Homo sapiens: one gene and its partners. The protein of the gene in region 4 purifies or fractionates together with the protein of the main gene of each other region. This does not show direct contact. Each region holds a gene or a part of one and is shown on either strand. Other genes may lie near its edges.

What was found.
Region 1: the proteins of CSTA (region 4) and HRNR purify together in Homo sapiens (affinity purification with mass spectrometry; one large-scale study listed by BioGRID and IntAct). This does not show direct contact.
Region 2: the proteins of CSTA (region 4) and TGFBRAP1 purify together in Homo sapiens (affinity purification with mass spectrometry; one large-scale study listed by BioGRID and IntAct). This does not show direct contact.
Region 3: the proteins of CSTA (region 4) and CTSC purify together in Homo sapiens (affinity purification with mass spectrometry; one large-scale study listed by BioGRID and IntAct). This does not show direct contact.
Region 5: the proteins of CSTA (region 4) and ODF2 purify together in Homo sapiens (co-immunoprecipitation; one large-scale study listed by IntAct). This does not show direct contact.
Region 6: the proteins of CSTA (region 4) and POC5 purify together in Homo sapiens (co-immunoprecipitation; one large-scale study listed by IntAct). This does not show direct contact.
Region 7: the proteins of CSTA (region 4) and ARMC9 purify together in Homo sapiens (co-immunoprecipitation; one large-scale study listed by IntAct). This does not show direct contact.

The regions. Positions count from the first base shown.
Region 1 is NC_000001.11:152,213,819-152,217,805, reverse strand, and holds part of HRNR (hornerin), read left to right. Parts: coding exon 1-3,987. UniProt on the Homo sapiens protein: Component of the epidermal cornified cell envelopes.
Region 2 is NC_000002.12:105,270,375-105,274,361, forward strand, and holds part of TGFBRAP1 (transforming growth factor-beta receptor-associated protein 1), read right to left. Parts: intron 3,317-3,987; coding exon 3,170-3,316; intron 2,641-3,169; coding exon 2,481-2,640; intron 1-2,480. UniProt on the Homo sapiens protein: Plays a role in the TGF-beta/activin signaling pathway. It associates with inactive heteromeric TGF-beta and activin receptor complexes, mainly through the type II receptor, and is released upon activation of signaling.
Region 3 is NC_000011.10:88,302,992-88,306,978, forward strand, and holds part of CTSC (dipeptidyl peptidase 1 isoform a preproprotein), read right to left. Parts: intron 1-3,987. UniProt on the Homo sapiens protein: Thiol protease. Has dipeptidylpeptidase activity. Active against a broad range of dipeptide substrates composed of both polar and hydrophobic amino acids. Proline cannot occupy the P1 position and arginine cannot occupy the P2 position of the substrate.
Region 4 is NC_000003.12:122,338,519-122,342,505, forward strand, and holds the end of CSTA (cystatin-A), read left to right. Parts: intron 1-2,920; coding exon 2,921-3,049; 3' UTR 3,050-3,451; downstream 3,452-3,987. UniProt on the Homo sapiens protein: This is an intracellular thiol proteinase inhibitor. Has an important role in desmosome-mediated cell-cell adhesion in the lower levels of the epidermis.
Region 5 is NC_000009.12:128,459,000-128,462,986, reverse strand, and holds part of ODF2 (outer dense fiber protein 2), read right to left. Parts: intron 3,421-3,987; coding exon 3,330-3,420; intron 2,830-3,329; exon of another isoform or gene 2,688-2,829; intron 2,475-2,687; exon of another isoform or gene 2,438-2,474; coding exon 2,321-2,437; intron 2,046-2,320; coding exon 1,920-2,045; intron 1-1,919. UniProt on the Homo sapiens protein: Seems to be a major component of sperm tail outer dense fibers (ODF).
Region 6 is NC_000005.10:75,710,630-75,714,616, forward strand, and holds part of POC5 (centrosomal protein POC5), read right to left. Parts: intron 2,323-3,987; 5' UTR 2,309-2,322; coding exon 2,225-2,308; intron 2,032-2,224; exon of another isoform or gene 1,978-2,031; intron 1,804-1,977; exon of another isoform or gene 1,756-1,803; coding exon of another isoform or gene 1,747-1,755; intron 1-1,746. UniProt on the Homo sapiens protein: Essential for the assembly of the distal half of centrioles, required for centriole elongation. Acts as a negative regulator of centriole elongation.
Region 7 is NC_000002.12:231,372,767-231,376,753, reverse strand, and holds part of ARMC9 (lisH domain-containing protein ARMC9), read right to left. Parts: 3' UTR 1-3,987. UniProt on the Homo sapiens protein: Involved in ciliogenesis. It is required for appropriate acetylation and polyglutamylation of ciliary microtubules, and regulation of cilium length. Acts as a positive regulator of hedgehog (Hh)signaling.

The DNA of each region.
Region 1 (3,987 bases), on a different chromosome or scaffold from region 4:
AGTCTCGCTCGGGTCACTCTTCTGTCTTTGGTCAACATGAGTCTGGCTCAGGACATTCCTCTGCTTACAGTCAGCATGGTAGTGGCTCAGGGCACTTCTGTAGCCAAGGACAGCATGGTTCTACATCAGGACAGTCATCAACCTTTGACCAGGAGGGATCTAGCACAGGCCAGTCTTCCAGCTATGGCCACCGTGGCTCTGGCTCCAGTCAGTCTTCTGGCTATGGCCGACATGGGGCTGGATCTGGCCAGTCTCCTAGTCGCGGCCGACATGGGTCCGGTTCTGGGCACTCTTCCAGCTACGGCCAACATGGGTCTGGCTCCGGTTGGTCTTCCAGCAGTGGCCGACATGGGTCTGGCTCAGGTCAGTCTTCTGGATTTGGTCACCACGAGTCTAGCTCATGGCAGTCCTCTGGTTGCACTCAGCATGGATCTGGCTCAGGTCACTCCTCCAGCTACGAACAACACGGCTCTAGGTCAGGACAGTCATCTAGGGGTGAACGACACGGATCTAGCTCAGGTTCATCTTCCAGCTATGGTCAGCATGGGTCTGGCTCCCGTCAGTCTTTGGGCCACGGCCAACATGGGTCTGGATCTGGCCAGTCTCCTAGCCCTAGCCGTGGCCGACATGGGTCTGGTTCTGGGCAGTCTTCCAGCTACAGCCCATATGGGTCTGGCTCAGGGTGGTCTTCCAGCCGTGGCCCATATGAGTCTGGCTCCAGTCACTCTTCTGGCTTAGGTCACCGAGAGTCTCGCTCAGGACAGTCCTCTGGCTACGGTCAACATGGATCTAGCTCAGGTCATTCCTCTACCCATGGGCAACATGGTTCTACATCAGGACAGTCATCGAGCTGTGGCCAACATGGAGCTAGCTCAGGTCAGTCTTCCAGCCACGGTCAGCATGGCTCTGGCTCAAGTCAGTCTTCTGGCTATGGCCGACAGGGCTCTGGATCTGGCCAGTCTCCAGGCCACGGCCAGCGTGGGTCTGGGTCAAGGCAGTCTCCCAGCTACGGCCGACATGGGTCTGGCTCCGGTCGGTCTTCCAGCAGTGGCCAACATGGGTCTGGCTTAGGCGAGTCTTCTGGCTTTGGTCACCACGAGTCTAGCTCAGGGCAGTCCTCTAGTTACAGTCAGCATGGGTCTGGCTCAGGTCACTCCTCTGGCTACGGACAACACGGCTCTAGATCAGGACAGTCATCTAGGGGTGAACGACACGGATCTAGCTCACGTTCGTCTTCCCGCTATGGTCAGCATGGGTCTGGCTCCCGTCAGTCTTCGGGCCACGGCCGACAAGGGTCTGGATCTGGCCAGTCCCCTAGCCGCGGCCGACATGGGTCCGGTTTGGGGCACTCCTCCAGCCACGGCCAACATGGGTCTGGCTCAGGTCGTTCTTCCAGCCGTGGCCCATATGAGTCTCGCTCGGGTCACTCTTCTGTCTTTGGTCAACATGAGTCTGGCTCAGGACATTCCTCTGCTTACAGTCAGCATGGTAGTGGCTCAGGGCACTTCTGTAGCCAAGGACAGCATGGTTCTACATCAGGACAGTCATCAACCTTTGACCAGGAGGGATCTAGCACAGGTCAGTCTTCCAGCCACGGTCAGCATGGCTCTGGCTCAAGTCAGTCTTCTAGCTATGGCCAACAGGGCTCTGGATCTGGCCAGTCTCCTAGTCGCGGCCGACATGGGTCCGGTTCCGGGCACTCTTCCAGCTACGGCCAACATGGGTCTGGCTCCGGTTGGTCTTCCAGCAGTGGCCGACATGGGTCTGGCTCAGGTCAGTCTTCTGGATTTGGTCACCATGAGTCTAGCTCATGGCAGTCCTCTGGTTACACTCAGCATGGATCTGGCTCAGGTCACTCCTCCAGCTACGAACAACACGGCTCTAGGTCAGGACAGTCATCTAGGGGTGAACAACACGGATCTAGCTCAGGTTCATCTTCCAGCTATGGTCAGCATGGGTCTGGCTCCCGTCAGTCTTTGGGCCACGGCCAACATGGGTCTGGATCTGGCCAGTCTCCTAGCCCTAGCCGTGGCCGACATGGGTCTGGTTCTGGGCAGTCTTCCAGCTACGGCCCATATGGGTCTGGCTCAGGGTGGTCTTCCAGCCGTGGCCCATATGAGTCTGGCTCCGGTCACTCTTCTGGCTTAGGTCACCGAGAGTCTCGCTCAGGACAGTCCTCTGGCTACGGTCAACATGGATCTAGCTCAGGTCATTCCTCTACCCATGGGCAACATGGTTCTGCATCAGGACAGTCATCGAGCTGTGGCCAACATGGAGCTAGCTCAGGTCAGTCTTCCAGCCACGGTCAGCATGGCTCTGGCTCAAGTCAGTCTTCTGGCTATGGCCGACAGGGCTCTGGATCTGGCCAGTCTCCAGGCCACGGCCAGCGTGGGTCTGGGTCAAGGCAGTCTCCCAGCTATGGCCGACATGGGTCTGGCTCCGGTCGGTCTTCCAGCAGTGGCCAACATGGGCCTGGCTTAGGCGAGTCTTCTGGCTTTGGTCACCACGAGTCTAGCTCAGGGCAGTCCTCTAGTTACAGTCAGCATGGGTCTGGCTCAGGTCACTCCTCTGGCTACGGACAACACGGCTCTAGATCAGGACAGTCATCTAGGGGTGAACGACACGGATCTAGCTCAGGTTCGTCTTCCCGCTATGGTCAGCATGGGTCTGGCTCCCGTCAGTCTTCGGGCCACGGCCGACAAGGGTCTGGATCTGGCCATTCCCCTAGCCGCGGCCGACATGGGTCCGGTTCGGGGCACTCCTCCAGCCACGGCCAACATGGGTCTGGCTCAGGTCGTTCTTCCAGCCGTGGCCCATATGAGTCTCGCTCGGGTCACTCTTCTGTCTTTGGTCAACATGAGTCTGGCTCAGGACATTCCTCTGCTTACAGTCAGCATGGTAGTGGCTCAGGGCACTTCTGTAGCCAAGGACAGCATGGTTCTACATCAGGACAGTCATCAACCTTTGACCAGGAGGGATCTAGCACAGGTCAGTCTTCCAGCCACGGTCAGCATGGCTCTGGCTCAAGTCAGTCTTCTAGCTATGGCCAACAGGGCTCTGGATCTGGCCAGTCTCCTAGTCGCGGCCGACATGGGTCCGGTTCCGGGCACTCTTCCAGCTACGGCCAACATGGGTCTGGCTCCGGTTGGTCTTCCAGCAGTGGCCGACATGGGTCTGGCTCAGGTCAGTCTTCTGGATTTGGTCACCACGAGTCTAGCTCATGGCAGTCCTCTGGTTACACTCAGCATGGATCTGGCTCAGGTCACTCCTCCAGCTACGAACAACACGGCTCTAGGTCAGGACAGTCATCTAGGGGTGAACGACACGGATCTAGCTCAGGTTCATCTTCCAGCTATGGTCAGCATGGGTCTGGCTCCCGTCAGTCTTTGGGCCACGGCCAACATGGGTCTGGATCTGGCCAGTCTCCTAGCCCTAGCCGTGGCCGACATGGGTCTGGTTCTGGGCAGTCTTCCAGCTACAGCCCATATGGGTCTGGCTCAGGGTGGTCTTCCAGCCGTGGCCCATATGAGTCTGGCTCCGGTCACTCTTCTGGCTTAGGTCACCGAGAGTCTCGCTCAGGACAGTCCTCTGGCTACGGTCAACATGGATCTAGCTCAGGTCATTCCTCTACCCATGGGCAACATGGTTCTACATCAGGACAGTCATCGAGCTGTGGCCAACATGGAGCTAGCTCAGGTCAGTCTTCCAGCCACGGTCAGCATGGCTCTGGCTCAAGTCAGTCTTCTGGCTATGGCCGACAGGGCTCTGGATCTGGCCAGTCTCCAGGCCACGGCCAGCGTGGGTCTGGGTCAAGGCAGTCTCCCAGCTACGGCCGACATGGGTCTGGCTCCGGTCGGTCTTCCAGCAGTGGCCAACATGGGTCTGGCTTAGGCGAGTCTTCTGGCTTTGGTCACCACGAGTCTAGCTCAGGGCAGTCCTCTAGTTACAGTCAGCATGGGTCTGGCTCAGGTCACTCCTCTGGCTACG
Region 2 (3,987 bases), on a different chromosome or scaffold from region 4:
AAGTCACCTTGCTTCCTACCCCATCTGTAACCCCATCTGTAACTTCCCACCCAGCCCGTCTGGAACTGCACCAGCCCTTATCTGCATTGCAATTAAACTCTGAGTCTCTAAGGACCAGAAGTGAGGCTCATCTGTTTTTACATCCTCAAGAGATTATAAGATCTCTTCCTACTGTGAAGAAATATTATGAGGACAACCCCTAGTTTAGGGTCAAGACTAATAATCAAATTATAGGCATTTGAATCTTGGCTGTCGCTTAGGCCTGAAGAACATGGCAGACATTGCTACCTGTGTAGCCAAGGGCTGGCCCTGCAAGGTACATCCCTTATAGCACTAGACACAGAAGCCACAATACGCAACGCCTTCATCCTCACAGTGGAAGGCCAACAAATAATTACTAAGTGGCTGCCATAGTTAAGACCCTGGGTGAGGTACAAAGACAGTTAAGAAAAGATCACTGTGGTGATTTACACTTCCACATCTATCATCTCATTTATATTTGACTCCCACAGCCACCCCGAGTGGATAGGTTGGGCTGGAATCGTTTTTACAACTTCCCTAGACTGACATTTCCCCAAGTCATCTAACTAAGAAGGGATACAAAATCAGTGTTTGGATTTCCAGTGCTCCTCCCACAGTGCTGCGGGGGATACCCCCATTGCCTGAAAGCTCCCCTGTGCTACCTGCAAGCCCAGGCTTATACCTAATGACTGCTCATATAGGGCCTCTTCCGGGAGGCTGCCTCTGACCCCTCCACCCCAAGGCACAGCTCGTGGGTTCCTCGGCCCTTCTAGAACTGTACCTGCCCTTAACTGCATTCCAATTAAACTCTGAGTCTCTGAGGACCAGGACCAAGTCTCATCCATCTTTGTATCCTCAATGCACAGTGACACACTCTACATACTCAGAAAAGCTGGCGGAATGCAAACATTGAACCACACACTTGTGGCTGGCCTGAGAGTTTTATAAGGAGATTTGTAAAGCAAAAAGAATAAGTCAGGAGTGAGTAAAAATTCAATAGCTGGGACACCCTGGCACTGATCAGTCAGGGACGGTGGCTGTGAGTGAACAGAGATTGCACAGCGGATCGCCACAGAAAGTCCTAATGTAGGTGCAGGTACAAGCCAGAACTAGTGTTTGCTGGTTTCATGAAATACCAACCCACACCTGTGTTCTGGCTCTACTGCTCGTGGGCTGTGTGACCTGTGGCAAGCGGGGTAACCTCTCTGGGCTTCAGTGCACTCTTCTGTAAAAATGGAGGAAAAACAGGCCTCACTTCACAGGGTTGTTGTGGAAACTGTGTCATAAGGCAGCCTCAGCGTTTCAACCTATGCTGGGCATATCTAGTCAATCCTCATTATTTGTGGATTCTGTATTTACAAAGTCATCTACTCGCTGAAATTTATTTGTAACCTCCCAATCAACACTCGCAGCAGCTTCAAGGTCATTTACGACAAGCACAGAGCCTGATGCAGAGCTGAGGCCAAAGAAGGAGCGCCCTCCTTCCTTGCTTCAGCTGTCGTACTAGCTACACGTTTCCTTTTCACGGGCTATTTATTGCCATGCTTTTTTGCATTTTGGTGCTTCTTGTTGGTGATTTCAGTGTAGTGCTGAAGTGCTGCCTAGCGCTCCTAAGCTCTGGAAGGTTGTGATGTGCTTTATGGAGACAACACGTGTGTTAGATATGCTTTGTTATTGGTCAAAAAATGGTATTAAAGGCCATTAAAGAAAAACACATCACTAACCCCAGTGAGTATAAATGCAGAAATTCTTAATGTGGCAAGAAACTAGTTAATTCTACCAGTTGCAAGCACCATGCTGCGCTGTGGAACTTTACACAATACAGAAACTGTGGCCTCTGTACCCCTGAGGAACAGAAACCCAAATGCCCTCCAAGACACCTGCATAACCTTCTTGCTTAGAGCTCGAGGGACCTGAGCCTTGAGCAGCTCGGGAATGGGTCGCTGGGGGCAGTGCCTACTGCAAAGCCTTGATCAGAGACTGAAGCCGTCAGAGGGAACTATGACTCAGTGCTTTGACATTGAATAAAGACACTGTGTGTCAAGAGACACACAGACGTCTAAAGTCTACCAGGGCAGCACCAACATCATCAATCAAAGGGCACCGTCCATCTAGAGGCACGGTCCATCTCTAGAGGCACGAGAAGCCTTATTTCTCCCTGCAAGGAGGCTGACTCTGTCAAAAGAGGCTCAAGGGCTGAGTGTGGTGGCTCACGCCTATAATCCCAGCACCTTAGGAGGCAGAAGCAGGAAGATCACTTGAGGCCATGAGTTTGAGACCAGCCTGGGTGACAAAGCGACACCCTGTCTTCATTTAAAAAAATCTTTTTAAAAAAAGAGGCTCAAAGAATCACCCTGTGCAATCAACCAGCAGCTGTGCCAAAGCCCTTCTCTCTGCTTCCTCCCACCCGCTTGATATGAGTTTTTTCCAAAGGGAGACAATACTGAGATCATCCTCACCGAGAAGAAAGTGGACTCGGTATAAATCAGATTTCTGGAGCAGCCGCCGCAGCTTGGCCTGCGTCTCGGTGGCCTCTGCACCCTTGCCACTGGCGGAGGCCCTCTGCAGCAGCACCTCTTCCAGGTACAGCACAGCTAAGTGGGTGTGATACTCTTCTTTCTGCAGGAAACAGGGGGAGCCAAGCAGACAGACAGTGTTTTCAAGTGGGAAAGTCAAAGCTCTCCCCTGTCAGCCAGGGCTTGGAGACCGCGGCTGCACTGACATGAGCTGGGCAGATGCTCACTTGCTGGATCGAAACCCTCTCAGAAACCATGATACTGAGATGAGTTTACCATCTATGGGGAATAGAACAAAATGTCACCTCTTATTTCAAGAAGTAAGGGCCACAGAATTTAGATAACCTACAAAAAGGTATAGCTCCCTTTATTTCCTTTAAGGATAATAACAAAGAAGGAAAAGAGAGGAAAAATAAAAGCTGAGTGGGTGTGAGACGGACGGAGAAAAAAATAAAGCTACCTATTGCTCCAGGTCTCTTTCCGCAAGCCTCAAGGCCGCCATCAGACCATCAACAAGTACGGATGGATCACCCAGGGAACAGACATTACACAGAATCACATGCCAAAAAGTGTTCTAGTTCAATTCCGTCTCTCCAGCCCACACTCTTTAGTCTAACTTCTGCAGTGCTCACCTGCAGTCTCTTGTCTATCACAAGATGTTCCAGATACTTCACAAGGGCTTTAGGGTATTTTTTAAGGCAATTGATAATGTCGTCTGGATTAAAACTGTTCTTCTGCTGTTCATCCAAAGGTCTCTTGGTGAAAACCTGAACTCCGACCTGAAAGAGGAGCGACAATACAGTGACTGTGCTTCCCAAACCCACCTTTCCTTTAACTTTATTTTGGTCATTGCACATTCAAGCTTTGGATAAAATCATCACTTAAAATATGATTAAATTATTATGTATGCACAGCTTTTTGTATGTCAATCATATCTCAATACAGTGGCTTAAAAAATATAATTATGGAGAAAAACAGCCCAGCATGAAGCACTGTCAAAGGCCAGAGGGCAAAAAATCAAGATAGAAAAGCCAGCCTATACCCTGAAGTCCTCCTCACACACCCCATGCAAATTGGAAACTGAAGAACAAAGCATTTACTGGTGACAGATTTTGACAACCTATAATAATAACATTAAGATCATCCAAGAACAGGGATAGCCAGTTGCAGAACAGTATGTGAAAAGATATCAAAAGTGCTGAAATTTCTGTACAGTAAACTCACTTCTCTGAACATGGATTATCTACTCTGGGTTATTTATGATAGATGGTTAATCTGAGATCTGAGCTTCCAGTCCCTGAGTAAGTTTCCGGGCTGCCTTCCTGTGTCCATCAAGTGGAGGCACTGGTCCAATCCTCTGGTTCAAGGAAAGGACAGTGAGGCAGGCAGGAAAGCAGCTCTCCACTGCACCTCCCCTGAGCACTTACATGTGGGAGGTTCTATCATGTGC
Region 3 (3,987 bases), on a different chromosome or scaffold from region 4:
TAGGGTGAGAGAAAAAACAAAGCTTGGACATTTCTTCTAAGATGTATAAATAAAAACTAAGATGCAAACAAACCATTTCCATCTTTGAATGGAAATAGTTTCTGTGGTTTCACATTGAGAGAGTATGTTGAAGAAGAAACTCAATTTTTTTTTAATTCTCTCACTGAACACTATCAACTGTCAACACAAAAGACTTCTGTGATCAAATGCATGTGGGTTTTTCCCCACAAATCAAGCAAGCAACCAATTTCACAGTGAATACTAGCTGGGTGTCCTCCAATCCAGTTTTGACACTGTGTACTTAGAGATGGCATCAGATCTCACAGGCTGAGGGCTCCGTCCCACAAAACTGCCCCCTACTTCTCATGCCAATTGAAAGCCCTAGGTTGTTTACCTGTGCTTCTGGCCAACCAGCTATAATGTGGGGATCCTATGACACCCTCCTTGGGTTCAATTAATTTGCTAGAGTGACTCACAGAACTCAGAGAAATACTAACTAATGTTTAGTGGTTTATTATAAAAGATACTACAAATGAAACAGATGAAGAAATGAGTAGGGCAAGGTATGGGGGAAGGGGCACACAGCTTCCATGCCCTCCCTGAACACGCCACCCTCCAGGAACTTCCACTTGTTCAGCTATCTGGAAGCTCTCTGCACCCTGTCCTTGTGAGCCTTATATGGGGACTTCATCAAATAGGCACAACTGACAACCATGTAGAGATGTGACTGGACATAAAGGGAATGATGTAAACACAGCAAGGCCTGTCCAGATTCTTCTGAGCCTCTCTCTGTTCAGTGTTCCTTCCTTTAGGGTATGACACAGGACATCTTTGGAAATGAAGGTCTTATGACCCAAGATCAGAAAGGCAGGAGAAGATTAGAGTGCTGCCCTGGGCAGGTGAGAGGAGGGCGGAAGAAGATCAGAGAGAGAGAGAGAGAGAGACTCTGTTTTCTGAGGCCTACTTCTGAGGCCTAATGTGCCCCAACGTTAAAAGATAGTGACAAGGGCTATGGGAGTTATGAGCCAGGAACTGTGGACAAAATCTAGTATGTGTTAACTAGTTGTCTTGTTTAAACCTAAGAATATACTAATATAAAGGATAAAAAAGAAATTTAAGTTTGGCAGCATAATGTAATTTCAGGGCATATGATTTTATCACTTACTATCTGTGTAACATTTGGCAAGGAACCTAACATTACAAAACTACAGTTCACTTCTATTAAAGTGGGTATAATCATGCTTACCTCAAAGGGTTGTTATGAAAATTCAATGTAATAATGGGTAACAAGTGCTTAGAACAGTGTTTTTCTCTGATAAGTCCTTAATAAAATGGCAGCTGTTATGAAGATAACATTCATATCATTAACAGGACTAAATAAGATGCTGATACAGTTTAAAGCAATTATCTGGCACAAAACAGTCATTACAATATTAAGTTCCTTTTTTCTACCATCCTATAAGGCAGAGATTTGCCCATCATTGCACACACAAACAAAACAAAAACAGTGTGAGAACTGAGGCTTAATGATGTTGTCAAAGGTGTTTGACCCAGAGCAACTCCATCTTGAATAGGAGCTGGGTAAGATGAGGCTGAGACCTACTGGGCTGCATTCCCAGACAGTTAAGGCATTCTAAGTCATAGAATGAGATAGGAGGTCAGCACAAGATTCAGGTCATAAAGACCTTGCTGATAGAACAGACAGGCTGCAGTAAAGAAGCCAGCTAAAACCCACCAAAACCAAGATGGCGATGAGAGTGACCTCTGGTCTTCCTCACTGCTACACTCCCACCAGCACCATGACAGTTTAAGAATGCCATGACAGGCCAGGTTTGGTGGCTCACATCTGTAATTGCAGCACTTTGGGAGGCCAAGGTAGGCAGATCACCTGAAGTCAGGAGTTCAAGACCAGCCTGGCCAACATGGCAAAACCCTGTTTCAACTAAAAATACAAAAATTGGCTGGGCATGGTGGGTCATGCCTGTAATCCCAGCTACTTGGGAGGCTGAGGCAGGAGAATCATTTAAACCCAGGAGGCAGAGGTTGCAGTGAGCCAAGATTGCTTTACCGCACTCCAGCCTGGACAACACAGTGAGACTCTGTCAAAAAAAAAAAAGAATGCCATGACAATGTCAGGAAGTTACCCTCTATGGTCTAAAAAGGGGAGGCATGAATAATCCATCCCTTGTTTAGCATACAATCAAGAAATAACCATAAAAATGGACAACCAGCTGCCCTCAGGGCTGCTCTGTCTATGGAGTAGCCATTCTTTTATTCCTTTACTTTCTTAATAAACTTGCTTTCACTTTGCATTGAGGACTCGCCCTAAATTCTTTCTTGCACAAGATCCAAGAGCCCTCTCTTGGGGTCTGGATCAGGACCCCTTTCCAGTAACACTGTGAAAATGAAGAGAGAGCAAGAGGAGTCTGGGGGATAAAAAGGTGAGAATTACAAACATTTTGAGTACAAGATACAGGATTGGCTCTTAATCTTTTGGCCCACATTCTTTACAAATCTAGTGAAAGCTCTAGATTCAGAAATGCTCATAAACAATAAATGCTGTCTGTAATTTCAGCAGTTTCAAAGACTCCCTATATCTCAAGTTAAGAATCTTTGAGAGTTTCTATTACGTCATTGGATTCTTAGAACAGAACTAATTTATAAACAAAAATGCTAGTGAAAAATCAGGAAGCCAGATTATAATATCTGCTTTCATATTTCCTACTTCACTCAATTCCATCTCCTTATCTTAAACCTTCTATAAAGCTTTAGTCATGAAAACAGTCCTTCATAAACCCAGCCCTTGTCTAAAACAAAAGTGGTTGGCTGGAGGGAGAAGGGAGCTTTAGCAGGAGTCCTCAGAAACATAGCATATGACACTTGGTAAAGCAGCTGTGACTGAGGCTCCCATCTTTCAGGCAGGAGCCACAGTCTCCCTAGGCTCAAGTGCTAACACTCCTCCTCTTGATGCTTGTTTGGATTTTTGTTGTTGAATAGATCTCAGCTTCCTGTCTCATGCAGATACATTAAGACACATTAGGACTTCACTTTGGTGAATTTGAGAAGGGGATATGATATGCTCCGTTTTCCAATTTTGATTAACTAGAGCATTTCACAGACAAGAAATTCTCTAGAATAAACTTGGAGAAATACTGCAAAAGATTCTTTTAAGAAAGGGGTAGAATTATGGGAGGATGCCATCAGTTGGACAGGAAAAACCTTCACATAGTCTCACAGTTGAAAAATGCCACACCTTAGCATTATTAGTCTGCAGATGAAAAAGTTAGTAATGTTGATATGGACAGGAGACAGGGAAATACTGGGTAGAAGAGGGTGGTCCCTCAGCAAAGGCCCCACCCTCAAGCCTGAAGACCTAAGGCCCTAAGAGAAGACAGGCATTTCTGTTTTCACACCAAAAAAGGTGCCTTTTGGCCCGCCATGCCCCCCATCCTTCCCCCATATAAACCCAAAATCTTAGCAGGCACAGATACAAGGAGCTGAACATCCAGAGGAGCAGAGGAACAGAGCGGCACAGAGCTGTGGAGAGTGGTGGGACAGCACAGCAGAAAAGGAGGGAAGAGGTATTTGAACCCAGAGGAGAACAGGAACAAGTGGACTCCAGGGGAAGAACACCTTTCCCCTCCATCCTCCTTCTCTGGCTGAGAGTCGTCTCGCGGAGAGCCACCTCCACCACTCAATAAAACCTTGTGCTCATCCTTCCAGCCCACGTGTGATCCAATTCTTCTGGTACACTGAGCAAGAACTTAGGCTGTCACATTGGACCCCTGCCCTTGCAATAAGGCATGGGGTCTAATGACCTGATTAACACAAGCCATCTGCAGACGGCTAAGCTGAAAGAGCACACTGTAACACATGCCCACTTGGGCTTCAGGAGTCTCCAACATCCACTCCTAGACACTGCTGTGGGGCCAGAGCCCAAAAGCACCCCCCATGGCCTCTGCACCTGCCCCTCTGCATGCTCCCCCT
Region 4 (3,987 bases):
AGTGAAGTAAGTGGAGCTAGTCAGCTCAGCATAAGAAAGTTTCAGTACAGAGCTATGTACACAGATCAGCCCTGTTCTGCCAAATGTGAGCTCCTAGTAACGACCAGGTCCCGGGGAGACACATGTGAAAGAGGACCCTGCTGTATCCTCAGAAAACAATGGCACCATTTCCTCCATTCTCAATCTGCTTTCTTCATGGCTGGAAAAGAAAGTTTTCCAGTTAAAAATGATTATGTGCAAAGATAGGAAACATTCCATCAACATTAACATATTTAATAATTTATGATTAATTCAAATGCATAAATTTCACATATTACCAGCTCACATGTTTCTTCAACAGTTCATCAGATAACTATCTTGAAAATTTCTGCTTGAAAATTTGTTCCCTTGACCACCCTTTTGCCCTCTCTTAATCAGTCTCCTCTCTCTCTCTCATCTTTTCTTCCTTCTGCTATCAAACTTTTCCTACTGGATCTCAGCCACCGATCCCAGTTCCCTTTTACTTCCTGGTAGTCTGGCTGTTGATCCCTTTGCTCTGAGGCACTCTAGATTTAAGGTCTTGCCAGTGATGTGACCTTCTCTATGTATTTCAAGTACCTATCAAGAGGTAGGTGGTAGAATGGAAGGACCACAAGCTTAGGTGTCAGAGTGTCCTGGGTTTGAACCCTTGTTCAATTTGTTCTATGGGAAGCTCCTCCTCCTCTCTGAGCCTTCATTCCCTTATCTGCACAATGAGGGTAATAATCTACTTCGCAGCGTGTTGTGAGGAATAAATAAGCTGGAAATTTATTGAGCACTTATAATTCACTATGCACTATTCTAAGAACAGGGCTTATCTCATTTAATCCTCACAACAAATCTATGAGATAAGTACAATCACTTCTCTTGGGTTACCAACGAAAAAACTGAGTTCCAGGGTGGTGAAGAAACTAAAAAGATCACACAACTACAAGAGCAGAGTCAGGATTTGAACCCAGATAGACTGAGCTTAACTACTGGCTGTGCTGCCTCTAATATAAAGCACAAAATAAGAGCTTTTACAAGGTTACACTGGCCTGGTGTGGTGGCTTATACCTGTAATCCGAACACTTTGGGAGGCCAAGGTGGGAGGATAGCTTGAAGCCAGGAGTTTGAGATCATTCTGGGCAACATAGCAAGACCCTGCCTCTACAAAGAAAATGTTTTAATTACCTAGGCATGGTGATGCACACCAGTAGTCCTAGCTACTTGGGAAGCTGAGGTAGGAGGATCACTTGAGCCGAGGAGTTTGAGGTTGCAGTGAGCTGCGATCGCACCACTGCACTGTGAGCCAGGCCTCATTCCCCGATCAGTACCCCCCAAAAATGTTACATTGTAGAGTGAAAAGAATGTAGATGCTAGAGGCTAACAGATCTGGGTTTGAATATTGGCTGTGCCACTGACTAGCTGAGAGATTTATGGAAAATCACTTAATCTCTCCTACTCTGCTTCCACGTCTGTAAAAATTTCATTGCTCCACTTTTCTTCAGGCCTATAATATAGGTTAATATAATCATTTATATAAAATGTTCATCATAGTGTCTGGCTCACAGTAAACATTTGATATATGGCATTTGTTAAAATTAGGATAGGAAGTGACATCAGAAGCACAATAAATATTTGTATAAGACAAAGCATTTATTGTCTCCAGCAAGAACCAAAGTAAAAATTCTTACCATAATTTTCCAGGTCTCAGATTCATGTCCAAACTACTGCTTCTGCTTCAACCTTCCTACCAATGACTTCCTAGTAAAACCCCTTAGCTTTTTTTTTTCTTTTCTTTTTTGAGACGGAGTTTCACTCTGTCACTCAGGCTGGAGTGCAGTGGCACAATCTCGGCTCTCTGCGACCTCCACCTCCCGGATTCAAGCGATTCTCCTGCTTCAGCCTCCCAAGTAGCTGGGATTACAGATGTGCACCACCACACCCAGCTAATTTTGTATTTTTAGTAGAGACCAGATTTCACCATGTTGGCCAGGTTTGTCTCAAACTCCTGACCTCAGGTGATCCACCCACCTTGGCCTCCCAAAGTGCTGGGATTATAGGCGTGAGCCACAGTGCCCGGCTGGCCCCTTCACTTTAGAAGGGAGGGTGTCCGCCCCCTGGGCTCTGCTCAATCCTACCAGTGGGTGTTTATAAAGTAGGTTCTGATATAGGTATGGGAACCCTGCATCCCAAATTTTCTAGGGCAATTCTGATTTTCTTCTCCCTTATCAGACTGTATGGCAAACAAAGTGTCCCAAGTTGAGAGTCAGAAAACAGTATCACCAAAAATATAGGCTATCACTTGTTTTCTTGCTCCATGCATCTTTGAAAATAAAATGCTGTCCTTTGTGCCCAGATTATACTAAAAAAAATAACAAAATAAACCTAGGACCTATGCCTCTTGCCATGCCATTAGTCTACAATTTTTTTTTTTTTTTAAGACAAACTCTTGCTCTATCACCCAGGCTGGAGTACAGTGGCATGATCTCGGCTCACTGCAACCTTCTCCTCCTGGGTTCAAGTGATTCTCCTGCCTCAGCCTCTAGAGTAGCTGGGATTACAGGCATGCACCACCATGCCCGGCTAATTTTTTGTATTTTTAGTAGAGACGGGATTTCACCATGCTGGCCAGGCTTGTCTTGAACTCCTGACCTCGTGATCCCCCTGCCTCAGCCTCCCAAAGTGCTAGGATTACAGGTGGGAGCCACGGCACCCAGCCTAGTCTGCTCTTTTTCTCCTAAAATAAGGTGGTGGATTTATGAATACAAAGAGTCTAAGAATGGTGGACTAGGTCTAGCAATGCTGTTCCTCAGCAGCTTTTTGGACAGAAGTCTTTGTAGACCTGTGGCTCTCTCACTTGATGTAGACCCATTTGAATGAATCTCCTTTTGCTTTCTCTTTCTTTAATATTTTTCAGGTACGAGCAGGTGATAATAAATATATGCACTTGAAAGTATTCAAAAGTCTTCCCGGACAAAATGAGGACTTGGTACTTACTGGATACCAGGTTGACAAAAACAAGGATGACGAGCTGACGGGCTTTTAGCAGCATGTACCCAAAGTGTTCTGATTCCTTCAACTGGCTACTGAGTCATGATCCTTGCTGATAAATATAACCATCAATAAAGAAGCATTCTTTTCCAAAGAAATTATTTCTTCAATTATTTCTCATTTATTGTATTAAGCAGAAATTACCTTTTCTTTCTCAAAATCAGTGTTATTGCTTTAGAGTATAAACTCCATATAAATTGATGGCAATTGGAAATCTTATAAAAACTAGTCAAGCCTAATGCAACTGGCTAAAGGATAGTACCACCCTCACCCCCACCATAGGCAGGCTGGATCGTGGACTATCAATTCACCAGCCTCCTTGTTCCCTGTGGCTGCTGATAACCCAACATTCCATCTCTACCCTCATACTTCAAAATTAAATCAAGTATTTTACAAAGTGTGTGTGTGTGTGTGTGTGTGTATATATATACTTTTTTTTTTTTTTTTTTTTTGAGACAGAGTCTCGTTCTGTCACCCAGGCTAGAGTGCAATGGTGTGATCTCGGCTCACTGCAACCTCCACCTCCCAGGTTTAAGCGATTCTCCCATCTCAGCCTCCCAAGTAGCTGGGATTACAGGCACCTACCACTGCGCCTAGCTAATTTTTGTATTTTTAGTAGAGACAGGGTTTTGCCATGTTGGCCAGGCTGGTTTCGAACTCCTGACCCTAGGTGATCTGCTCGCCTTGGCTTCCCAAAGTGCTGGGATTACAGGTGTGAGCCACCTTGCCCAGTCTATATTTTTATTCTGAAACAAACTTAAACATAGAGAAAAGTTGCAAAAAAAAAAAACCCACTTTTTTTCCTGGACATTTGAGACTAAGTTACTTACCATGATGCCCCATCATCAACAAATACTTCAGTGTGCATTTCCTACAAACAAGGATATTCTCCTGCAAAACTGAAATACAACCATCAAAATCAGGAAATTGCCA
Region 5 (3,987 bases), on a different chromosome or scaffold from region 4:
GCCCAGCCAGATGTATTATAATTTAACCAACACTCTCCTGATGGACATTTAGGTTGCTTCCAATTTTTCTGTTACAAACAATGCTACAGCAAAAAATCTACAAAAAATCCCTGTACTTGTAATCCCAGCACTTTGGGAGGCTGAGGTAGGCGGATCATGAGGTCAGGAGATCGAGACCATCCTGGCTAACACGGTGAAACCCCGTCTCTACCATAAAAAATTAGCCGGGCATGGTGGCGGGCACTTATAGTCCCAGCTACTCGGGAGGCTGAGGCAGAAGAATGGTGTGAACCCGGGAGGCGGAGCTTGCAGTGGGCCGAGATTGCACCACTGCACTCCAGCCTGGGTGACAGAGCGAGACTCCGTCTCAAAAAAAAAAAAACAAAAAAACAAAATCCCTGTACTCTTCTATGATGTTTTTAGGACAACTTCCTAGACGAAAAATTACAGAATCAATGTTTAGACAAGTCCTGCCAAACTGACTCCAGAACAGCTGAATCAGGTTCACAGTCCTATAAAAAACGTTTTAAAAGATTCGGGCCGGGTGTGGTGGCTCACACCTGTAATCCCAGCACTTTGGGAGGCTGAGGTGGGCTGATCACCTGAGGTCGGGAGTTCGAGACCAGCCTGACCAACATGGACAAACCCTATCTCTACTAAAAATACAAAACTAGCCGGGATGGTGGTGCATGCCTGTAATCCTAGCTACTCAGCAGGCTGAGGCAGGAGAATCGCTTGACCCAGGAGGCGGAGGTTGTGGTGAGCCAAGATCGCGCCACTGCACTCCAGCCTGGGCAAGGGCAACAAGAGCGAAACTCCATTTCGGAAAAAAAAAAAAAAGATTCATTGATATCCCATATGCTTGCTGGCAGGAGATAGTTGTCATTTTTTAAACTTTTTCCATTCAAGAAAAAAGCTCATTGTTTTTGTTTTAAAAAAAATATACTGTGGCTTTTAATTTACATTTCACTGATTATTAGTGAAGTATATGTAGTAAAAAATGTAAGGCAGCAGTCTAATTTCAATCCTTTTAATTTATTGTACTGGTCAGAGCAGTTTCCATTTAATCCTAAGAAAGCCCCATACTCCCTTTGTCTCTAAGGGAAAGGAGTCTCCTTTGTCTGGTAAATCAAGGAGTCAGTTTTGACATAGTTTTATGAGGTATGACTATAAACTTCAAGGAGTTACTTTTGTTTTTCATTTCTATTTTTTTTTCTTTTCACTGCTGGTATGAAAGATTTCTAATGTAATAAACTATAAGAAAAATAGGCTGGCTGTGGTGGCTCACGCCTGTAATCCCAACACCTTGGGAGGCCGAGGCGGGCGGATCACCTGAGGTCAGGAGTTCGAGACCAGCCTGGCCAACACGATGAAACCCCATCTCTACTAAAAATTTAAAAATCAGACGTAAGTGGTGGCGGGCGCCTGTAGTCCCAGCTACTAGGGAGGCTGAGGCTGGAGAATCACTTGAACCTGGGAGGCAGAGGTTGCAATGAGCCAAGATCATGCCACTGCACTCCAGCCTGGGCGACAGAGCAAGGCTCTGTCTCAAAAAGAAAAGAAAAGAAAAGAAAATACATGTGATGTGGCTCCTCACAAGCAAAGCAGAGAGGCTAAGAGTACTGCCTCTAGAATGAATCTTAACTCCAGCTCTGCTAACTTCTCTGTGACTCTGGGAAAATCACTTCTCTCTGAGGTCTGGTTCCTCATCTCTGCCTTTGGACAGCAGGACTTCCCACACAGCAGTATCATAAGAACTCAAGAAGATTCACATAGTTTCAGGGTTTAGCAAGGCCCTCAGTAAATGGGGTCTGTTAGGACATTCCAGTAGCTATAGCTGACCCTGAATCATACCGAGGCTGAGGCCTGCTAGGATCTGAGCAGTCCGAGAAGAAAAGCCTGGGCAAGGGTGAGCCTACCTCCCACTTGCATCCCACAGGCCGGGCAGATGATTTTCCAGGGGGCATCCAAGGTACCTTGGTTTTCACCCGGACACTCCGCCGCACATTCACAGTGTCCCCTTTCATTCCTCGCTTGTGAGATTTCTGTGGAAAGGGACAAACCCAGGGTCACTTCCACACCCAGCTGGCCACGGTGCCACGCTAGTGACATCCCTCTCCGACTAGCAGAGTGCCTCTTCTGACTAATGTTACTGCTGTTGCTCCTGGATGACAGGCCTGCCTACCTTCTAACCAGGAAACCGGCCTCCGAAAGAGTGTGTTTGTCTCCCAAACCTTTGGAGTCAGAGTGCGAGGAGGCTGGGCTTAGCAGGATCACCCAGATCCACAGCTACTACCTCGCCCCACTGGCATGCTCCTACCTGGCTGCTGGTCGCTGATGGTTTCGGGAGTTTTTTTATGTGGACGTGGACAGGGGTGTTCTCATCCACGTGAACATGTAAGGGGGGAGTTGAAGAGCGGTCCTTCATGGTTGGCTTCTGGCAGGTGGGGGAGGACAACACAAAAATGGTTGATCTGTGGATGAGTAAACTGGGCATAAAAACAGAGCTCACAGCCTCTGGGGGCCACCAAAAAGCCTAGCCACCAAGCGAGCAGGACAGCTACCAACTACTGGCATGCAGGCAGGGAGTAAGGCGGGAGTATCATTCAGCAGGCTCCTGCAGAGATCCCAGCAGAAGACCACAAGGGAGATTCTGGTCCACTCAAGAGAGGGTCTGCAAGACCCACCCGTTCCAGAACAGATCCCAGACGCCGGCCCCAGGGTTCTTAGGGCTGGATCTCCTCTAAACCTGCTGGAATGCACAGCTCCTCCTTGGATTTAGTGAAGCACAGCGGAAAGCAGGCGGATCCTTCTACACAGTGATCTCAACTGGGCATGCAGATTGGCGTGGGAAACACACAAAATGCTCAGGGTGCAGAATAAATCAGAGAGCAGGCAGATCAAAGAACAGGAAAACAGAAAGCTGAAGGAAATCCTAAGGATGAGAAGGCTGTCTAGATTCTAAAGAAAACATGAGCAAGGCAGAACCACAGCTACAAACCCCTCAACCACCACCAGCTCTTATCCTTCCCCTCATTCTTTAAACTTTTTTTTTCTCTTCTTTTTCTTTTCCTTTATTTTAAAAATCTCAAGATTTTAGGATTTGGCTGGAAGAATAAGTCTAAGACAATTTCCTCACACCCGGCAGCCTCACCACAGGCAAAAATGATGATCATAATTAAAAATCAGCAGAGTATGTATAACAGCACCTAGCAGAGCAACTGGGCGGCGATGGTGCCCAGCAGGGTAAGGCACCTCCTAGAAACGGTGTGCAAAAGCATTTTTAGCAAGGTGACCAAAGAGGGCTGCTACGTGAGTGCATCACCTACCGTCACAGTTACACTGGGTGCGCCACAAGGTGCTCTCAAGACCTTTTTCTGCGTGAGACTCGTTACTCCGTTCTTCCCACACGATGGAAACCTGCACCCAGGCACAAGAACCAGATTGTAAGCAGAAAACTAGGGCAATCTTATATTTCAGATCTCATGAAATTACACACTGACTACGGTAGCTAACATGTTCATGGCTAGGAAAACCAGCCTGGAATTCCTTGACTCCCCTGAGATGAGCACCAGATGTGCGTGGTGTGCCCAGCAGTGGGATGGAAATAGGGTGACAGGCATTTGCAGGCTGGACTTTTAACATATCGTCACATCACATGTATTATGACCCTTGCTGAAAAGCCTAGCTGACATCCTGTCAGATGACAAAAAGCAAGCAGCACATGAACAGAAGCCAATGTGCTGGTTTGGCCAAGGGTAGAAGCACCCAGGACAGTGCCTGGAGCAGAGGCGGCCCTGGAGAAAGATGCAGTGAGTGAGTGACAAAAATAGAGCATTAGTGGCCACAAGCCATGTCTCATGCCTGTAATCCCAGCACTTTTGGAGGCCAAGGCAGGCAGATTGCTTGAGCCCAGGAGTTTGAGACCAGCCTGGGCAACATGGCAAGACCCCATCTCTACAAAACATACAAAAATTAGCTTGGCGT
Region 6 (3,987 bases), on a different chromosome or scaffold from region 4:
CTGTGATCTGGGACTTCTAGCCTCCAGAACTGTGAGAAGATAAATGTCTGTTGTTTAAGCCTATGAATTTATGGTACTTTGTTATGGTAGCCTGAGCAGATTAATATGATGGTGATCTTATATTGTGAGGTTCATAAACTTTTTATAGTGTTCCTGCTGTGGTGTCAGTTGCAACTAGATTTAGCCAAGTCAGCTCTACTCAGAGTTAGCCTATCACCACCTCTAGCATGTAGGAACGGAGGGAGAAGTGGAAGTCAGTGGCTTTCACTTGTGGCTTCCCTAGTCTGACTTCTGCTCTGGATAAGAGAAGGAAAAAAAAGATCCAAACACATATTTCAAATCATATACTTCATACATATTCATATATTTCATATATTTTACCACAATTGCTATGGCTTAAAGGGGAAATAAATAAGTATATGTCAATAGTATTCCATGACCATATATTCCAACTTATTTCAAGAAAACATTTAGAAAAAATCAGTTATTTAAATGACTATTTTAGAGTTTCATATATGTAGACACAAGCCAAATAAGTTATTTAAAAATAAAATTTAAAATTAAGAATCAAAATAAACAATATTGGCTTTCTTAATTGCCAAACATAACCTCTGTTAACATTCAAAACTTGTAATTTTGCCCCCCTCCCCAACCCCCAAGAGCTGAATTGATATGACCCTGAAATATAGCTCCACCCATGCCTCAACCATTAGAGTCAGAGCAACTTGGCTGATAGGAGCTGTGGTTAGAGGAAATTTTCAGTGTATAAGCACTATGGATGCTGCCCATCCCTCAGCATTTACCACCTTCTGGCTTATGAAGCATTCGCATAAAAAGAGAGTAACAAAAAAGTTCCTTAAGAGGAATATTTATTTATGAGGGGCTTTTGTATTAAATGTTTGGATTTACATATTTACTACATATGTAAAAATGTGTATTTTATGTTATTTTTAAGATTTTTTTTTGTATTTATATTTTGAAGTGCTTCCAGTAGTGAAACCCAAAGTAATAACACTGTATGTACAGGGAATATGGAGAGGCTTTCAACTTCAGTCCAAGAACCAGTAGGAACATTAGTTGACAGTAATAGACTCTCAGTTGAGCTTACATTATAGGTGGGTAAACAATAACACAAAATAATTTCTGGCAGGTTCTTCTTCCGTCTCTCTAAAATTCCACTCTAGAGAGTTATTCTTTTGATTTAAAGCTTTATCTCTTCACGAAATGAAATTTGAGAGCTCACAAGGTGTTTACATTTTAGTATAAATGAGTTAATCAGTTCTATCTTCAAGTTTCAATCAGACAGCGATGAAGGGTGGAGGAAGTACTGTCACCTGAAGAGAGGACTACATGGGACAGGTACCATCAAAAGGGAAGGCTAGGGTGCAAAAGCTCTGCCACAACTCCAGACTAGTTTTATCCTGTAAATATTCAGATATTTTCCCAATACCTTCCCCATTTTGAAATCCATAATTTCGATTAAAGGAACAAATTTGTTTCATAAAATATTTTCCTAAAGCTTTTCTCATATCGTACAGAATCAATAACAATTTCATATGCTTAGGCATAAACAGCCTTTCCCCTTGAGTAATACAACTGTAAAATTTAAGATATACCATGTCATTATTCTCATATTTAAAATCTACTCCAGAAATCTAAATCCATATTTTTGATGATGAAATATTTAGAAATAAGAGAAATTTAAAACATTTCATGTAAATACCACACCCTCTGTAGTTAACTGACCCACTTCATTTTATCTGTCAATGTCCAGGTCCTGGGCAGCAGATTGTACTGAATGTTGTGACAACAGAGACCAAACCTCAGCAAGTAGAACACAAGGGAATCTTGAGCTCTAGAACTTTGGATGGTTTGATATTGTATTAATTTGCATTAAAAGTGAAAGTAGCATTCATGAGAGGTAGCTAAAATGAAAAAAATTTAAACAAAAAAATGTTTCTTGAACATTTGTTTCACCTCTTACTGTGTTGGTTGAAGCCTTTGTACAGAGTGTATGAAGAGTTCATCAATATTTTCTGAAAAGTTAAAACAATGTAAAGTCACTCCTAAAATGTGTACAGTAATTCCTGAAGTTTGATATTATTATAAATTGAAAAACTCCCTTGTAAATGGATGAAAAAATTATTAAAAAATCCTAGTTTTCCCTTACATTCATTTGTTTAAAATAAAAAAAGTCATGGTAAATTTAGAAATTTTTTCCTACCTGAAGATTCGAAGAGACAGAACTGCCTCGACTGGAGTCATTTTGCACAACTGGAAGTGAGTATTTCTCCTCATCTGATGACATTCTGCACAAATGCTCTAAAACAGTAGAAGCTAACTTTAGCTTTTTTCCTTGATATTTAAGATAAAATCCTTTCCAGATATATATAAGTGCAACAGTATCCAAATCTGCAATCTTCCTGTGATATGCTAAAATCATTCATTCAACATATTGAGTACCTACAGGCAAAAAATCACTGGGCAAAAAACAGTTGAAGACCCAGTCCCAATATTAGTGAGTTTATAACGTAGTCAGGTCTTCAGAAAAATCCCCAGCGGGGCCTGTTGAGCATAATAGATTGTGATCACTGTTCTTGAGCAATGTGTGACAACCTGGGTGCTGTGTACTTTCCTCTAAGACACAGAACCAAGAGAGAACAAACAATTTGTGCAAATTCCCTTCTTGGGAAACTTACCTTTGGAAATATTATTTTAAGAAAAGTGAGCTTATACAGAACAACAGAATCAAATATATGCATAGAGAATTTGTTGAAAGTCCTAATCAAAAAATCATTAAAAGTACTTTTAGTAACAAGTAACCGAATTATTCAAAGAACAAATAGTGACTATTCGAACTATCTGAATACCAGTAATATGTAAGACATTGGTGAGGAATGTAAAATGAAGTCCTCATTCTTAAGGAGTTTACAATCTGTAGAGAGGGCCAGGCATGTATATTATATAAGTGACCGACTGATGAATAAACTGCTGATAGGCCCTAAAATAACAGATACAAAGTAGAGAGATAGGAGTAGCTATTTTTCATGGGGTAAGATTGCATGACTGTAAATAAGCAGGAAAGGAGGCACAGAAAGTTTTTAGAGAAGATGACCCAGGTGTTGAGATCTGAAAGATGAGTAGGTCTCATCCTGAAAGATGGATAAAAGGTATAAACACAGGTGTAGATATTCTAGGCAGTAGAGCAATATAAGCAAAGACAGAGCCATGGACATGTATGCCACGAACAGCAAGCAGTTTGGTAAGGACAAAGCAATGGGTGCAAAGGATTGGCTAAGGATGAAACAAAAAGTAAGGAGCAGCCAGATCATGGAAGGTCAAAACTTGTCATATTAAAAATCTGGGTGTTTATTCTAGACAAGTTATTGAAATATTTTTTAAAAGTTACATGATCAGAAAGATCATTCCAGCAGCGTTGAGGATGAATTTGGATATTAAGAGAGATCAGGCTGGGTGCAGTGAATCATGCCTGTAATCCTAGCACTTTGGGAGGCTGAGGTAGGTGGATCACCTGAGGTCAGGAGTTTGAGACCAGCCTGGCCAACATGGCGAAACCCTGTCTCTATTAAAAATACAAAACAATTAGCCGAGCCTGGTGGCAGGTGCCTGTAATCCCAGCTACTTGGGAGGCTGAGGCAGGAGAATAGCTAGAACCCTGGGGGTGGAGGCTGCAGTGAGCCAAGATCGCACCACTGCACTCCAGCCTGGGTGACAGAGACTCCGTCTCAAAAAAAAAAGAGAGAGAGATCAATTGAGAGCTGACTGCAGTAGTCTAAGAGATAAATGTTCTCTTTGATAGTAATTAAGAAGATAAATGATGACCTAAGTCTAGGAAGTAGCAATGGGAAGGGGATGGAGGGTATGACTACAAGACAGTTGTGTTATGGTGATGGAAAGAGAAAATGATCAATAATAGATCAAGGGGTTAAAAAGAACTGTTGGTGGCTTCCAGATCTCCGGTTTGGG
Region 7 (3,987 bases), on a different chromosome or scaffold from region 4:
ATTTTCAAAAGGGGAGGGAGTGTGCGAATAGGTGTGGGTGACAGACATCAAGTACTTAACAGGGTAATAGAATATCACAAGGCAAGTGGAGGCAGGGCGAGATCACAGGACCACAGGACCAAGGCAAAATTAAAATTGCTAATGAAGTTTTGGGCACCATTGTCATTGATAACATCTTATCAGGAGACAGGGTTTGAGAGCAACCGGTCTGACCAAAATTTATTAGGCGGGAATTTCCTCCTCCTAATAAGCCTGGGAGCGCTATGGGAGACTGGAGTTTATTTCATCTCTGCAGCCTCGACCATAAGAGACGACCACGCCCCCGGGGGAGGGGGGCCAGTTCAGAGACCCACCCCCAGGTGTGCATTCTCTTTCTCAGGGGATGTTCCATGCTGAGAAAAAGAATTCAGCGATATTTCTCCCATTTGCTTTTGAAAGAAGAGAAATATGGCTCTGTTCCGCCCGACTCACCAGTGGTCAGAGTTTAAGGTTATCTCTCTTATTCCCTGAACAATTGCTGTTACCCTGTTCTTTTTTCAAGGTGCTCAGATTTCATATTGCGCAAACACACATGCTGTACAATTTGTGCAGTTAATGCAATTATTACAGGGTCCTGAGGCAACATACATCCCCCTCAGCTGACAGGATTAAGAGATTAAAGTAAAGACAGGCATAGGAAATCACAAGGGTATTGACTGGGGAAGTGATAAGTGTCCATGAAATATTCACAACTTATGTTTAGAGACTGTAGTAAAGACAGGCATAAGAAATTACAAAAGTATTAATTTGGGGGAACTAATAAATGTCCATGAAATCATCACAATCCACGTTCTTCTGTCATGGCTTCAGCCAGTCCCTCCGTTTGGGGTCCCTGACTTCCCACAACACCTGCTGTCTTCTTTCTCACCCCCGGGTTCTGTCCCCAGTTTCCTATTTCTCTAGTCCCCCTTCTGAGATCCCATCCACCCCCAGGCTTTAGTAGACACCTTAAGATGACGACTCTGGATAGGGCTCTGTAGCCCTGACTTTTTGCTAATTTTGCAACCATTTCCTAGAAACCTGCCTGATGTTTCAACCTGGGGCTGGTGCTCCGGCCTGGACCATGCCATCCGAAAAGGCCAGAAATTCTCCCTAGAAGATGGATGGCAACTTGAAAGCCAGTGGGACCATGTCTCCACATCTGACACACTGCAGCCCCAAAGAATATATTTGTTCAATTGAATCTAAATGGAGAGGGTATACCACAATGGAAAAACAGCCCTAAAAGATTTGGTCCTGCAAAGCTCTGAACAGCATCTATGTGGTAGCTTGCAGCAGTATTGCCTCTGGTTCATTCGGGGTCCCTGTATCCACATCCTTTCACACAGACTTGGGCCTTGGCCATGTGGTCTGCTTTGGACAATGGGAGAATAGTGAACGTGATATGAGACTTGGGCTTGATTTCTCTAACTGCCATGGGAGCCCCGAGGCCACCATGTGAACAAGCCTAAGCCAGAGGAGAACCAAGGGCTCAGCCAACAGCCAACTACCAGACATGAGCGAAGCCCCTGACTGCCCTCTGACCATAAGACATAGTTGAGTTCAGCCAAGCCCAGCAGAAGAATCGCCTGTCCGTGCCCAGCCCCCATCACTGATCCAAATCATTATAAAGCTAATACATTTGTTGGTTTAAGCCACTAAGTTTCAGAGGTAGTTTGTTAATATGCAAAAGCTAACCTAATCACTTCTTAGAACAGCACACCCCAAATAGTATCTGGAGAGATAAAGCTAGGCAAACAGGCACACCACCAGCCCCAGGCTGTGCTATCAGGCACTGTGGGAGGGACAGGAGGATCCCCCAGATTCTAGGCCAGGAGAGAGGGGTGAGGTATTCACCTTGCATACAAAATTTAAAGGGCTACCCCAAAACTCAGTAATGAAGACACATGATGTAATATTTTAATGTAATATTTAAAAAAAATCAAATTGGTATCTCTGGTCCACGTCCCAGCTGCCTATTTTGTAAATACAGTTTTATTAAAACTGGGGCTGGGATTAGGGTTAGACAAGCCAGGTGGGGTCATCCAAGTACAGGGCCAGACTTGTTTTTATTAAAAAGTTTGATATTTTATCATGGATTTCTTTTCTTTACCTTTTCTTTCTTTTCTTTTTTTTTCATGAACCTTATTTGTTCAACTATTTTATTTTTATTTTTATTTTATTATTTTTTTTTTAGCTCTTTTGATTTGGGCCAAATCTTTCCTCACCTATTGACTAATCTCTGGCATCTCACTGGATCTCAAACCTCCACCTGCCTATTAAAGTCCCCACCACAGGTCCTAATTTAAGCTCTTGCCAGACAGTTCCACCTTGCTGTGAATGCAGAAATGAGATCAAGTCCCACTCAGAAGAAACCAGAAGATGTGAGGTAACCAGAGGGGCGGCTCAGCCTCCAGGGCAGAGGAGCCATAATCTACCTGGGGCCTTACCATTTTCCAGAAGGTCCAAAGATCCCTCTCTGTGGCTTCCTTGGTAGTTTTCAAGGGCAAACCTTAGGCGCCATCTGCTTGGATCTCCATCTGGAGATCTGGCCTTTAAACAGGTTTACTTGTGTTTTAGATTCTTTCCCCTTAGACTGGGGTCATACCCATCCTCAGCAAGCTCATTGGAGCTGGTAGATAGTTGGAATATTTGTGAATAAGTTGTTGGTATTTTACAAAGTATATTTCTAGCTGTCAGCCTTGGAATGCAGAGGCGTGAGCCCAGGAGTGTACTCTCCCAGGGCGTGGCGCAGAGGCCTGGGTGATATTTTCAGCACTTTCCTGGAAGAACCACACATACCCCACCTGGTAATCTCAATGTATTTTTTTTTTTTTTTTGACGGAGTCTCTGTCGCCCAGGCTGGAGTGCAGGGGCGTGATCTTGGCTCACTGCATCTTCCATCTCCCGGTTCAAGCTATTCTTGTGCCTCAGCCTCCTTGAGTAGCTGAGATTACAGGCACCCACCACCACATCCAGCTAATTTTTTGTATTTTAGTAGAGACGGGGTTTCGCCATGTTGGCCAGGCTGGTCTCGAACTCCTGGAGGCCTCAAGTGATCCATCCGCCTCGGCCTCCCAAAGCACTGGGATTACAGGTGTGAGCCACTGTGCCCGGCCTAATCTCAGTGTATTTTGACCCTAAGTTGGATACTCCCCACTTCTCTAAAAGACTATCTTTTCTTCTCCTCAAACCATCAGACATCTACAGATCAGACTTTAGCTCTTTGGTAGGCTTGAGGGAAAAGTAGTGGTTGACTTCAGACGAGGGAGACACTGACCTGACCCCGATGATTCTCCCACCCCCGCTGGACTTCTGCTGCTCCCACACCAAGGGCGGGAAAGGCTGTGCCAGCCAGTGGCATCTGAGGAATCCGTAGGGGAGTGGACTTCTTGTGGGGAGCAAGAGAGATTTTTCCATTCCACTCCTTTGCTGTTTGTCTGCAACCACTCTACACCTTTTCAAAGTCTCACCACGGAGGAGTTGCATTTTGCGGACCCTCTGCTTTTCCTCTGTCTGCACCACTGACACCAGGGGCGAGCTTTGTGTTTGCTCCCAATGCCTCCGGGTCAAGTGAGGAGTTCAGAGAGGGCCTGGTGGCTGACAGGTCAGGACGGCAGCCTTCTTCCCTGAGCACAGAGTGGACACATTTCCAGAGAACCAAGAGGTGGCCACCAGGCCAGTCACATGACAGCATCTAATGTGCCCAGCCTGGAGCCGCTGCCAAGAATTCACGAGATGAACCAGGGTCCCGGCCCTGGATGAGCTTCTGGTCATCTCATGGGTAACCTGGCCTCCTGTTTACCTCCTCTGCCTGCGCTCCTGAGGAGTCAGGGGGCCATGGAAAAATCCAGCGCTTAGCCTTTATTTACGACCATTGGGACCAGAGATGTCCCCATTGAAGGGTCTGTGGGCAGATCAGGTGCCTGGGGGAGGGCACGCGACTTTTCTCTGCTTTCCATTTCCCTT